Linked DNA regions of Homo sapiens: region 2 is linked to region 1. Evidence: fine-mapped expression QTL. A gene starts in region 1. The other region holds a variant in brackets. All regions are shown on one strand. Distances are from middle to middle. Region 1 holds the start of TSPAN9 (tetraspanin 9). Region 2 overlaps TSPAN9 (tetraspanin 9).

The links. PIP is the estimated chance that this variant, and not a neighbour inherited with it, causes the effect.
Region 2: its variant is the best candidate, but not a certain one, in a credible set for the expression of TSPAN9 in subcutaneous fat (GTEx, PIP 0.89).

The regions. Positions count from the first base shown.
Region 1 is chr12:3,075,037-3,080,400 of GRCh38, reverse strand. TSPAN9 (tetraspanin 9) reads right to left here and starts at 3,022. Exons shown (of 9, transcript NM_006675.5): 1 at 2,948-3,022. RefSeq lists silencers at 2,917-3,416, 3,467-3,516.
Region 2 is chr12:3,283,181-3,288,544 of GRCh38, reverse strand. It overlaps TSPAN9 (tetraspanin 9), which reads right to left. Exons shown (of 9, transcript NM_006675.5): 9 at 1,986-5,364. Among named protein-coding and RNA genes, the nearest start is that of LINC02827, 14 kb to the left of the region's middle. RefSeq lists enhancers at 3,318-3,818, 3,819-4,319. The variant G/CAAAG (reference allele first, on the strand shown) is at 3,123.

The sequences.
Region 1 (5,364 bases):
TTATGCCACTGCACTCCAGCCTGGGCGACAGAGTGAGACTCCATCTCAAAAACAACAACAACAAAAAAAAGATTTTACATTCAGTGTTTTTTTAACCACAATTTTAGAATTTTTTATATAAAGCACACTTCCTAATTGATTGAGTGGCTGCCAATATCTTACACTGTTAATTATCTGATGCTGGAAGAGACTCTAGAATATTTCTAATCCAATATACCACCAAAACAGAGAGTTGGAAAGAGGAGGTAAATTGCCCAAGGTTGCACAAATAGGTGGTGCCAGGTGAAGACAAGGCTCAACATAGAGGAAAGGGGCTGGGCGTGGTGGCTCACGCCTGTAATCCCAACACTTTGGGAGGCCAAGGTAGGAGAATTGCTTGAGGCCAGGAGTTCAAGACCAGAGACCAGCCTGGGCAACATAGCACAACCCTGTCTCTACCAAAAAAAAAAAAAAAATTTTTTTAATTATCTGAGCATGGGGCCTGTACCTATAGTCCCAGCTACTCGGGAGGCTAAGGTGGGAGGATCACTTGAGCCCAGGAGTTGGAGGCTGCAGTGAGCTGCTTGTGTCCCTGTGCTCCAGCCCAGGCAACAAAGCAAGACCCTGTCTCTAAAAAAAAAAAAAAAAAATAGAAGAAGGGGCTAAGTACGGTGGTTCATGCCTGTAATCCCAGCACTTTGGGAGGCCAAGGCAGGCGGATCACCTGAGGTCAGGAGTTTGAGACCAGTCTGGCCAACATGGCGAAACTCCATCTCTACTAAAAATACAAAAATTAGCCAGGTGTGGTGGCGGGCACCTGTAATCCCAGTTACTTGGGAGGTTGAGGCAGGAGAATCACTTGAACCCAGTAGGCAGAGGTTGCAGTGAGCCGAGATAGTGCCATCGCACTCCAGCCTGGGCAACAAAAGCAAAAGTCTGTCTCAGAAAAAAATAAATAAATAAAATAGAAGAAGGGCAGAGAGGCAGATGGCAGAATAGATGGCACAAGGCAGGAAGGTCAGAAGCCAGGGTTCAAGTTTTGCTTCTTTCACTTAATGAGTGTTGTGACCTTAGATAAGATACTTATTCTCTCTGAGTATCATTTTCTTAACCTATAAGAAGGCAATTAAAAGTAACAAACTTCAGCCAATGCGGTGGCTCACGCCTATAATCCCAGCACTGTGGGAGGCCAAGGCAGGTGGATCACTTGAGGTCAGGAGTTCAAGACCAGCCTGGTCAACATGGCAAAACCTCATCTCTACTAAAAATACAAAAATTAGAAGGCGTGGCGGCACGCGCCTGTAATCCCAGCTACTCGGGAGGCTGAGGCAGGAGAATGGCTTGAACCTGGGACGCGGGGGTTGCAGTGAGCTGAGATCCTGCCACTGCACTCCAGCCTGGGCAACAGAGTGAGACTCTGTCTCAAAAAAAAAAAAAAAAGTAACAAATTTCACAAGATTACGTATGAATTAAATAAAATTATATACAGCTAATGTAACGTGCATAGAAAAAACTTGGCCAACTATAAATTACTTTATCAACACTAGTTATTGTTATTAATATTAAATATCTGTTCATAGGTTTAAAAAGCTCTGCCAGAATATTAAAATCTGATTAAACCAGACCAAAAAAAAAAAAATCCTACTCTCACCTGTTCAGGGACTTGCACACAGGGCGTCTTCAGTGAGTGAGAGTAGAACTGAATTACACTTCAAGTTTTATCTACCCCAATCCTCTCCCTCCAACCCACAGCCCAGCTGCATCAGCCATGCCAGGACCAAGCCGAGGGTAGGAAGCCGGTGTAATTGTCTGCCTCTCTGGCTGCATTCCTTAGCTAAATATAAATGATTTGTCCAGGCTATTGTTTGAAATTATCCATAATCCCTCTCCTCCCCTCCCCATTACTTATGATGGCAAGCTGGCTGCGTATCTCTATAGCAAAGCATATATTCAACATTCTCTGTGGCTATTTTCAGTAAAGAGAAGGGAGCTGGCAGGTATATATAGGGATCCTCGCATGAGTCTTCAGTTTTCTCCACTAGTCCAGGAAAGCTTCCTGGAGGAGGAAATACCTGAGTCACCCCAGGGAAAAGGACAGCTGCAGGTCAGAAGGGCACGCGCACATAATGAGAGACTGGGTCTCTGAACTAAGAGTTACCAGGTAAGGCAGGTAAGCCCCTGCCTTCTTACCCCCCGTTTTGGTGATGCGAGAAAAAGGTAGCTCAGGGGATCCCATACTAGCCCAAGCTTCCCCAGACAAAACAGGCATTTGGGGGAAGATGAAGCAGTGACTCGTATATTTTTCAAAGAGGGAGGAGATCCAAGACTCCAGTTCCAAGATGTACAAGTACAAATATTGCTCTTACAACAACAAGCCGGTTTCTTGTTTGGATCTTTTTTTAAAAACCACAAGAAAGTTTTTTGAAGTCCCAAACTTGAATGCACAGATGGGCTAGATCTCCAACTTCGGGATGTGCCAGAGTCCTGTCACTCGGAGTGCTGATCTTCCAGCAGTGGCCCAGGGAGCGGTCGCGGGTGCCGGGGGGCTGCAGGCCATATCCCAGCCCTGCCCGAAGGCCCCCTGGCCCTCTCTGGGGTCCTTGTATGGACTGTCCCAAGCGGTGCACGGGGTCACACAGTCGGAAACCCTTGCCGGCCCCGGGTTACTCCCTTTCTGAAACGGTCTTCCTCGGAGCCATCCCCTGGAGGACCCCACTTCGCTCGGTGCCCGGGCCCCGCACCCACCCTCCCCTTCCCGGCCCGCTTCCCGCACGGCGCCTACTCTGTTCCTCGTCCTCTCGTCCCACCGCCGCCCTGCCCACACTGCCTCCCGTGGGCGCCCCCGGCCGCTCCCCCTTCTCGGGTCTCGGCCTGGGGGTGCCCAGCCCGCCCGGCGCCGGCTCAAGGCCGCGCGACTCCGCACGCTCTCGAGACCCGCCTCGCCGCCCGCCGCCCGGGCCGCACTCACCGCGCCCGCAGGACCTGGGGGTCTCCGCTCTGCTCGCGCTCCGGCACCGCCGCCGCCGCCGCCGCCAGCGGAAACAGGGGGCGGGGCCTGCCCGGGAATGGCGAGCCTGCGGGGCGGGGCGGCCCGGGGGCGGAGCGGGGAGGGGCGGGGCGGAGCGGGGAGGGGCGGGGCGGAGAAGGATCGCAGGGCTGAGCGGGGCGCCAGCGCCAGTGCCCGGCACTGCCCCGGGCTGGGTCCCCTGCGTTAGAGGAAGGGGAGCCCGGGGACGGGGCACGGGGCCCGCGAGGCACGGGTGCTCTCTCGGGGTTCCGGAAGCCTCCCTCCCCGCCCCGCCGCCCGCATGCCCGGACCGGCCGCTCCTCCGAGGTGCTATGATCCCGCCTTCCCCCTGCGGCGAACGGGCCTCTTCCCGGGGTAGGGGCGGGGAGGTCCGGGCCTGGCAGTGCGCTCTCCTGGGCTCTGCGCCCACACGGCACCCAAGGGCCTTCCTGGCCCAGGCCTCGGCTCTCTCCCTCGCGCCAGGCTGCCTGGCCTCGCCACCCCACCCCCACACCTACGAACCCCTTCCCTGGTGTTTCGGGCGGACTGTGCGAGATGCTGACAGCGCGGGTGTGTGTTGGAGCCTGCCTGAGACACCTCCCGCAGAAAGGGCCATGCCTCCCCAGGAGCTGGCGGCCTCCAAGGGCGACTACAGGGCACCGTGTGCCTGAGGGGTGCGCTAAGGCAGGAGAAACTCCAGCTAGGCATGTCTGGCCCGGGCGCTTTTTCAGGCCTGGATTTTATGTGTTTTTTGCTTTTTGTTTTGTTTTGTTTTTTCTTGAGACAAGGACTCACTCTGTTGCCCAGGCAGGAGTGCAGTGGTGCGATCACGGCTCACTGCAGCCTCGACTTCCCGGGCTCAAGTGATCCCGCCTCAGCCTCCAGAGTAGTTGGGACTGTAGGCGCGCACCACCACGTCCGGCGAAGTTTTTGATTTTTTTTGTACAGACGGTGGTCTCCCTGGGCCCAAGCTGGTCTCAAACTCCCGGGCTCAAGCCATCCTCCTGCCTCTGCCTCCCAAAGTGCTGGGATTATAGGCCCGGATTCTTAAAGCTAGAAGGCCTAAACTTGTTTCCAAAGAGCACTAAAACGCCATCTCTTCTCATCATTACTGTCATCAAAAATGTCTTCTAGGCCAGGTGTGGTGGCTCACGCGTGTAATCCCAGGACTTTGGGGGGCCCAGGTGGAAGGATTGCTTGAGCTCAGGAACTCAGGAATTCAAGAACAGCCTGGGCAACATAGGGAAACCCCATCTCAAAAAAAAAATGTTTTAATTAACCGGGTGTGGTGGCACACCCCTGTAGTCCCAGCTGCTCCGGAGGCTGAGGCTCAGGCGTTGGAGGCTGCAGTAAACTAGGATCATGCCACTGTACTCCAGCCTGGGCAGTAGAGGGAGACCCTGTCTTTAAAAGTGAAATTTTTTTAAATTTTAAAGAAACTGTATGCTGTGCTTCCCACGTGCCCTACCATTGCACTAAGCTTGACTGGGGACAAGTTTTTAAAACCTGGCTATAATCACTAGGGTCACTTTTGCTTTCTGCTAATTAGACTGGAAGTTTCCACTCATCTTCTGGGCCCCTTTCCGTCACACACATGCAACCTTGTTTTTGTCTATTAGACTAAACCCATAACCCATTTCCTTCTGATCTCCCTTTCCCCACAAGGAAAATATTCTCCTTCTACATTTTGCTTCATCCAAAGCCCTGTTCAATGCCCCTATAACAAAGTCTTCCCAAGGAACCCCCACCAGCCCCAATCTCTCCAGTCACTGCGGCAGAGTTGGGTACATGTACCCAGAAAAGGAAACTGGGTCTCAGACAGGGAAAGAGATATACTAGGATTGTCTGCCAGCAAGCCAACTCACTGGCAGACCATTGGACGCAGCCTGGTGAGGGAGTAGCCGCAGGGCTTGGGAGCCAGACACACCTGTCTGAATCCTGGCTCTGCTTTTATCGGCTGGGACCTCTTCAGGCCTGTTTTCTCACCTGTGGAATGGGGCATAAGAATACCAATTATGGGGATGGGCATGGTGGCTCACACCTGTAATCCCAGTACTTAGGGAGGCCGAGGCGGGTGGATTACCTGAGATCAGGAGTTTGAGACCAGCCTGGCCAACATGGTGAAACCCCGTCTCCACTAAAAATACAAAAATTAGCCGGGTGTGGTGGCACATGCCTGTAATCCCAGCTACTCGGAGGGCTGAGGCAGGAGAATTGCTTGAGCCTGGGAGACGGAGGTTGCAGTGAGCCAAGATCGTGCCACTGCACTCCAGCCTGGTCGACAGAGCGAGACTGTCTCAAAAAAAAAAAAAAAAAAAAACCAATTCCACAGGGTTGATGGGCTGACCAAGATGATGGAGTAAAAGCACAACATGTGA
Region 2 (5,364 bases), 210 kb before region 1:
ACTTCAAGTTCCTTGGCCTGGTTCTCAAGGTTGTGATCTGGTGGTCACCACCATCTCCAGACCTTCACCTTCACCCTTTGTGCTCCAGCTCTGTGGACCACAAGCATCCACAGGACACATCTCCTGCCTCTCTTTGCCAGGTGAACACCTCCACCTTCAGCTCTTAGCTTTGACATCACCTGCTCTGGAGACCTCACTTCCCCAGGTTCAGCCAGTGACTGTCCCCCAGGGCTTCCCAGTGCCCTGTGAACATTGCTGCCACTACTTACTTGCAATCACAGGCACTCTTCTGGGGTCCCCACTAAATGGTCGGCTCTGAAAGTGCAGGGACTGGGTCTGTGTCGTCCACGACTGTGTTCTAGGTGCCTGGCACGAGTGAGTATTCAGTAAGTCTTTGGGCAAACAGACATTTGTCTGTGCAAGCGCCACTGTTGGCCCCATGGAAAGCTGGCGGGGCTCAGAAGCCACCCTTTCTCACTTGCCCTTTGCTGAGCACCAATGGGGAGGCAGTTCCATCACAACACACAAGAATGGGGGCGCAAAGGAGGGACCCCCCCCCCCGGGTCATCTCAGCCACTCCCTAGACAGAGGAGCCCAGACCCAGCCCAGAGGTGCTAGCCTCGTCACTAGAAGTCCCAAAGAAGATGCTCCTCTCCCGCACAGCCAGGGCAACCAGAGCCGAGGGTTAAGAGAACAGCCAGTGTGTTCCATTGCCTGGAAGCCCCAAAACACAGCACAGTGACCCAGTGGGCATCTCAACAGGCCTGGGGGCAGGAGCGAGAGTAAGAATGAGCAGAGACAGGGTGGCATCCACCCAAATTCCTATGAGCTGGTTTGTCCTCCGCAGACGATGAGGGGGTCACCTGCTCCTCAGCCACGATCAATCCTGACCCTACAGCCACAAAGTCTCTCTCGGTAAATATCCTGGGGAGGTTCCCAGGGACATCACTCCAGCTGGACCTTAGACAGAGGGTGGCTCAGACTCAAGGCACCGTCTCTGGAGGCTCTGGGACACAGCAGCTGCAGGAGGGGGCCCCAGAGGTTGATGTTTTGGGATAATTCTGTGTGGACCTGGCCACTCCCTTGAGAAGGCGGGAGATGGAGTTCCACAGGCAGAGGGGTTTCAAGATGCTCACCTCCAAACCTCCAACTGCTCTCAGACCCCCATGCACACTCACCCTCACGCCTGCCTCCACCCTGGGGACATGAACACAGTGAGGACCAGCAAGGGGAGTTCTGAGCTTCTCATCTGCAACTTGTCACCTTGACTGACAGCCAAGGAAACCCCACACACCAGGACCCCAACCAAGGCCGCGGGAGACTTCGACTGCAGGAAGGCGGCAACGTCAGTGGCCCAGCCAGCAGCTCTTCCTGCTCGCGGTTTTAATGGCCTTCCCTGCTGACCATCCTCATCCTGATTTTGTTCCTTCTTTGAGGCTGTCCCAGTCACCCTGAAAAGGCCAAGACACACTGTGAGGCCCCCTCAGTCCGAGACATCAAGGTCAAATGAACCCCGGGAACATCACAGGGATTGGGAAGAAGACTGTTTCTGAAACTGACAGCCCCCACCCCTACAGGAAGCCCCTTACCCTACTGGAAGCTGCTAGTGGCTTATTCCATACCCGCCCCACGATACACTTCGGGGCCTGGCCACAGGACTGGCCATGTGTGATGGGTGATTGGTACGGAGACAGGACTTCAGCCTCTCAGGCAGAAGGCCTCGGGCACTGGGACTGCCCCCTGATCCAGCCTGTTTCGAGGGGGGATGTTAGGATTCCTCAGGCACCCAGAGAGGACAGAGACCCTCCCCACGCCAGCAGATCTGTGACCTGGGCCCCAAAAGAGAGATGAGGTCCCCCTGGGGGTGTGTCTTGGATGAAGGGTAGGAGTGGTATCTGATCCCTCTGGGTCCCTCACACCAACCACGACCTAAGTCACAGTTTTGGCTGAGTGAACAAAACACACCACTGAGAGACAGCCTGCTGTGCTTTTGACACTTTATCCGTTTTTATTTAAAAACATGCTAAAAACATGGTGTTCCATAAAGCCAGGACCAGGATGAAGGAACGCACAGATACGGCAATGCAAGCAGAAAGTGCATCTGAAACCAACAAGCGTGCTCACCCTGCTCTCCCTCCCGTGCTGCCCGGGGGCAGGCAGGTGGGCAAGGAGGGGGCAGGAAGCCCCCCAGGCCTCACCTCCTGAGTCCCCAATCAGGGCAGGGAGGCCAGGCCCCACCCTGGACTATTGACTCACTGCAGTGGGGAGGAGGAAAGTGTGGGGCACGGGAACACAAGGGCTGGCCGGACTCTGAGAAGCTGAGGGACAAAGAATGGACCCCAAGCACCTCACGCCCAGCTCCCATCCTATGCCACGTCCCTGCTAGTTAGCACCTCCACCAGTGGGTGGGCAGGGGCTGGAGAGGAGGGGACAGCCACTTCCATCCACCCAGACTGCTCTTGGGCCACCAAAGCCTGGAAAGATGGCCATCTAGTTCCAAGTCAAACCAGGACACCTGCAAGAGGGTCCGGGGCAGGGCCACCTTCCAGAGAGCCTGAGACACAGGCCCATGCTGGAGGGAGAGGGGGGTGACACGGCTCAAGCTGGGGGAGGGGTGCAGGGGGAGACTTGCACCGTGACACCTGCTTCCACCACCCAAGAGCAGTTCTCAGCCTGTGCCCGCTCACCCCCACTGCAGGATGGCTGCAGAGAAAGGCTGAGTCTGCAGCGGATGCCCCCCTGCAGTCCTCTACAAACCCTGAGGGACTTTCTGAGACAAGTGTGTAAATTGCTCACATCAGACCTGATTGAACTGACTCTGGCAAAGGGAGCCGTGAGTGAGGGAATTCTCTCAGGGGAATTCTACCCCAGTGAGATCACAGTCAGGAGAAACTGAAGAGAGGCTGTGCCACCTTCACTGGCATCGCTGGGTGTGGCCCTCTGAGTGGAAGGGGCTCGAAGGAACACCCACTCTGTGCACACAGACTTCCGCCCAATGTAGACTAAGCCAAATAACAAAACGGCCAAGCGCAGAGTGAGTAAAGAAGGCAGCGTGGGGACCTGTAGATGAGGCTCTGCAAACAGACGGATGAGGTGGGGGCTGGTGGGAGCACTGTGGCAAA[G/CAAAG]GCTCTGGGGCCAGAGGCCACCCCTGAAGTACTCCAGAAACAGAAAAGATTTTCAGGGAGGTTGCACATCTCCCAATGCACTAGGCTTTTGCTGTTGATATTAACAAAAATTAAAAATTGCATTGATAGGCATAAACCAACCCACCCACCCCACCCACAGCAAAAAACGCACGAGGCCCCGGGTCCCACCGTGCAACTGCAGCACTTGTCTGCTGAGTCTCTCCGCCCGGATGTGTCTGCTCCGGAATCTGCACTTTGGGGGTTCCTGCGGAGGCGGCTGAAACTCCTTACCAGGAAGCCAGGCCAGGGGACAAGGGCAGGGCAGCTTTGCTCAAATGTGGGCCTCCCCCACATTCCATCAGCACCACTGCCCCTGTCTCAGGGAAGCGGTCTTCACCCTGCACAACTCACAAGACCACCCTACTCTCCACTCCCACCCCCACAAAACACGAATCCTGATAATGCCAACGGTTCTGTCCTCCTGTTCCCGATTTGTGTGTTACTTAAGGTGAACAGAGGAGTGACTGGTGCTGGGTGGCCGTGTCTCAGCTCTTGGATCAGACAGGCAGGTGGAGGCTGGAGAAGAGACCTGGCCCCAGTGGGAAACCAGGGTGACAAGACAAACTGTATAGGAAAGGCAGCCGCCCACCAAGGCCCCACCTGATCAAGTGCAGCAGACGCTGGCTAGCGGGTGAGGTCCCCGTGCTCAGTCCCACGGATTCGCGACCTTTTTGAACGGCAAAACAGTAAGCCAGACCAGCTGCAGTTTGGAGGGGGCGCCCTGCTGCAGCTGAATCCCACTCCTGGCCTCACTCCCCAGCCCGTTTCTCTCCCATGCCCAGCTCTGCACGTGCGTGACTCCGGCTGCTTTCTTCCCGTGGCTCCGGTAACAAGAGCCAGTCTGACCTCTCTTGGGTTTTCTGTATTTCTTCTCCTTGGGATCACAGATGATATAATCGCCACCCAACCCACTGCTGATGTCCGTGGCCCCAGGGAAGGAGGCGAAGATCTTGGGACCCAGGTGGACGTGATTCCCTCCTTCCCAGCAGGGCAACCCACAGCTGAGCAAGGCTGGCGGGGAGGACCGTGGGTCCTCACCCCTGTGGGTCCCCTGCCACTGTCCCAGCACAGCAAAACCTAAGGACTGCTTCCCCTTCCAGAAGCAAGGGGGAAAGTGAGCAGCATCCGAACTAGAGAGGTATTTGTCTGACAGTTTCTAGCAGGAATGTCTGTGAAATAACTGGGGTGTGCAGAACCTGTTGTGGGAATACCCACATGGGGTGGAAGGGGAAGCCTCGCGTGCCAGCAGAGAGCGGGAGGAAGGGAGAAAGAAAAAACCAACAACTGCTCATCAGTGAAAAGTCTAAGGACCCCTCTAGCTCTGCCACAGCACCGTGGGGCCCCCCTGCCCTGGCATTTCCAGCTCGATTGGTTAGCAAACGCCACCTCCCGTGCAGGGGCACCTCCAGCCTGCTTCACGCTCCACCCGCCTCTCCCAGGCTCCTGTCCTCAGACACCAGGCCTGGCAAGGTCCCGTGTCCTGTCCACGCCCCCTCCTTCCCACACGTTCTGAGGGCGCAGGCGCGCCCCATCCGAGAGCCTCCTGGGTGTCGCACGGTGGTCTGTCCTGATTGAGACTGGACAGATGTCCTCTCTTCCCACCCATCCCTCACCCTCAGGGAAAAAAAGTCAAACCATTAAAGAAATCAACACAGTAAAAAGTTACAAATCAGAAATCTAACCCTAAACTTATCTGAGAGATAATATTCCTGAATAATCATAGAGTAAAATAAAATAAAAAAGTTACATTGTAAGGTATAAAAAGCCTGGGCGAGATGCTCCAGGGGCCTTGCCCAGAGGCCGGCAGACCCCCGCCCCGCCAGGTGCCCCATGGTGGCCATGGATGTCGCAGCCCCCGCTGGGGCGGTATCTCCACGGGGCGGGCACTCTGCTCCCCACCCCATGTGGGGACAAAGTGTCAGTGTGAGGAAGGGCAGGGGCAGAAGCCCATCAGTGCCGGGGGTTCCTCCGGAGCGCACCCCAGCCCACCCTGTCGTCTTTGGCAAATACGCATATGCAGATGCAGGAATCCAGGGGCCCCGAGCCCCAGGTCTCCGTGTGCCTCCTCCTCCCTGGCACTCCACCCACTGAGAAGTCCGAGGCTGAGGCAGGGTAGGTGGGGTAGGGCAGGCTGTGGGGGGTGGGTGCAGGGGTCATATCTGGAGAGCGCAGGCAGGTGACA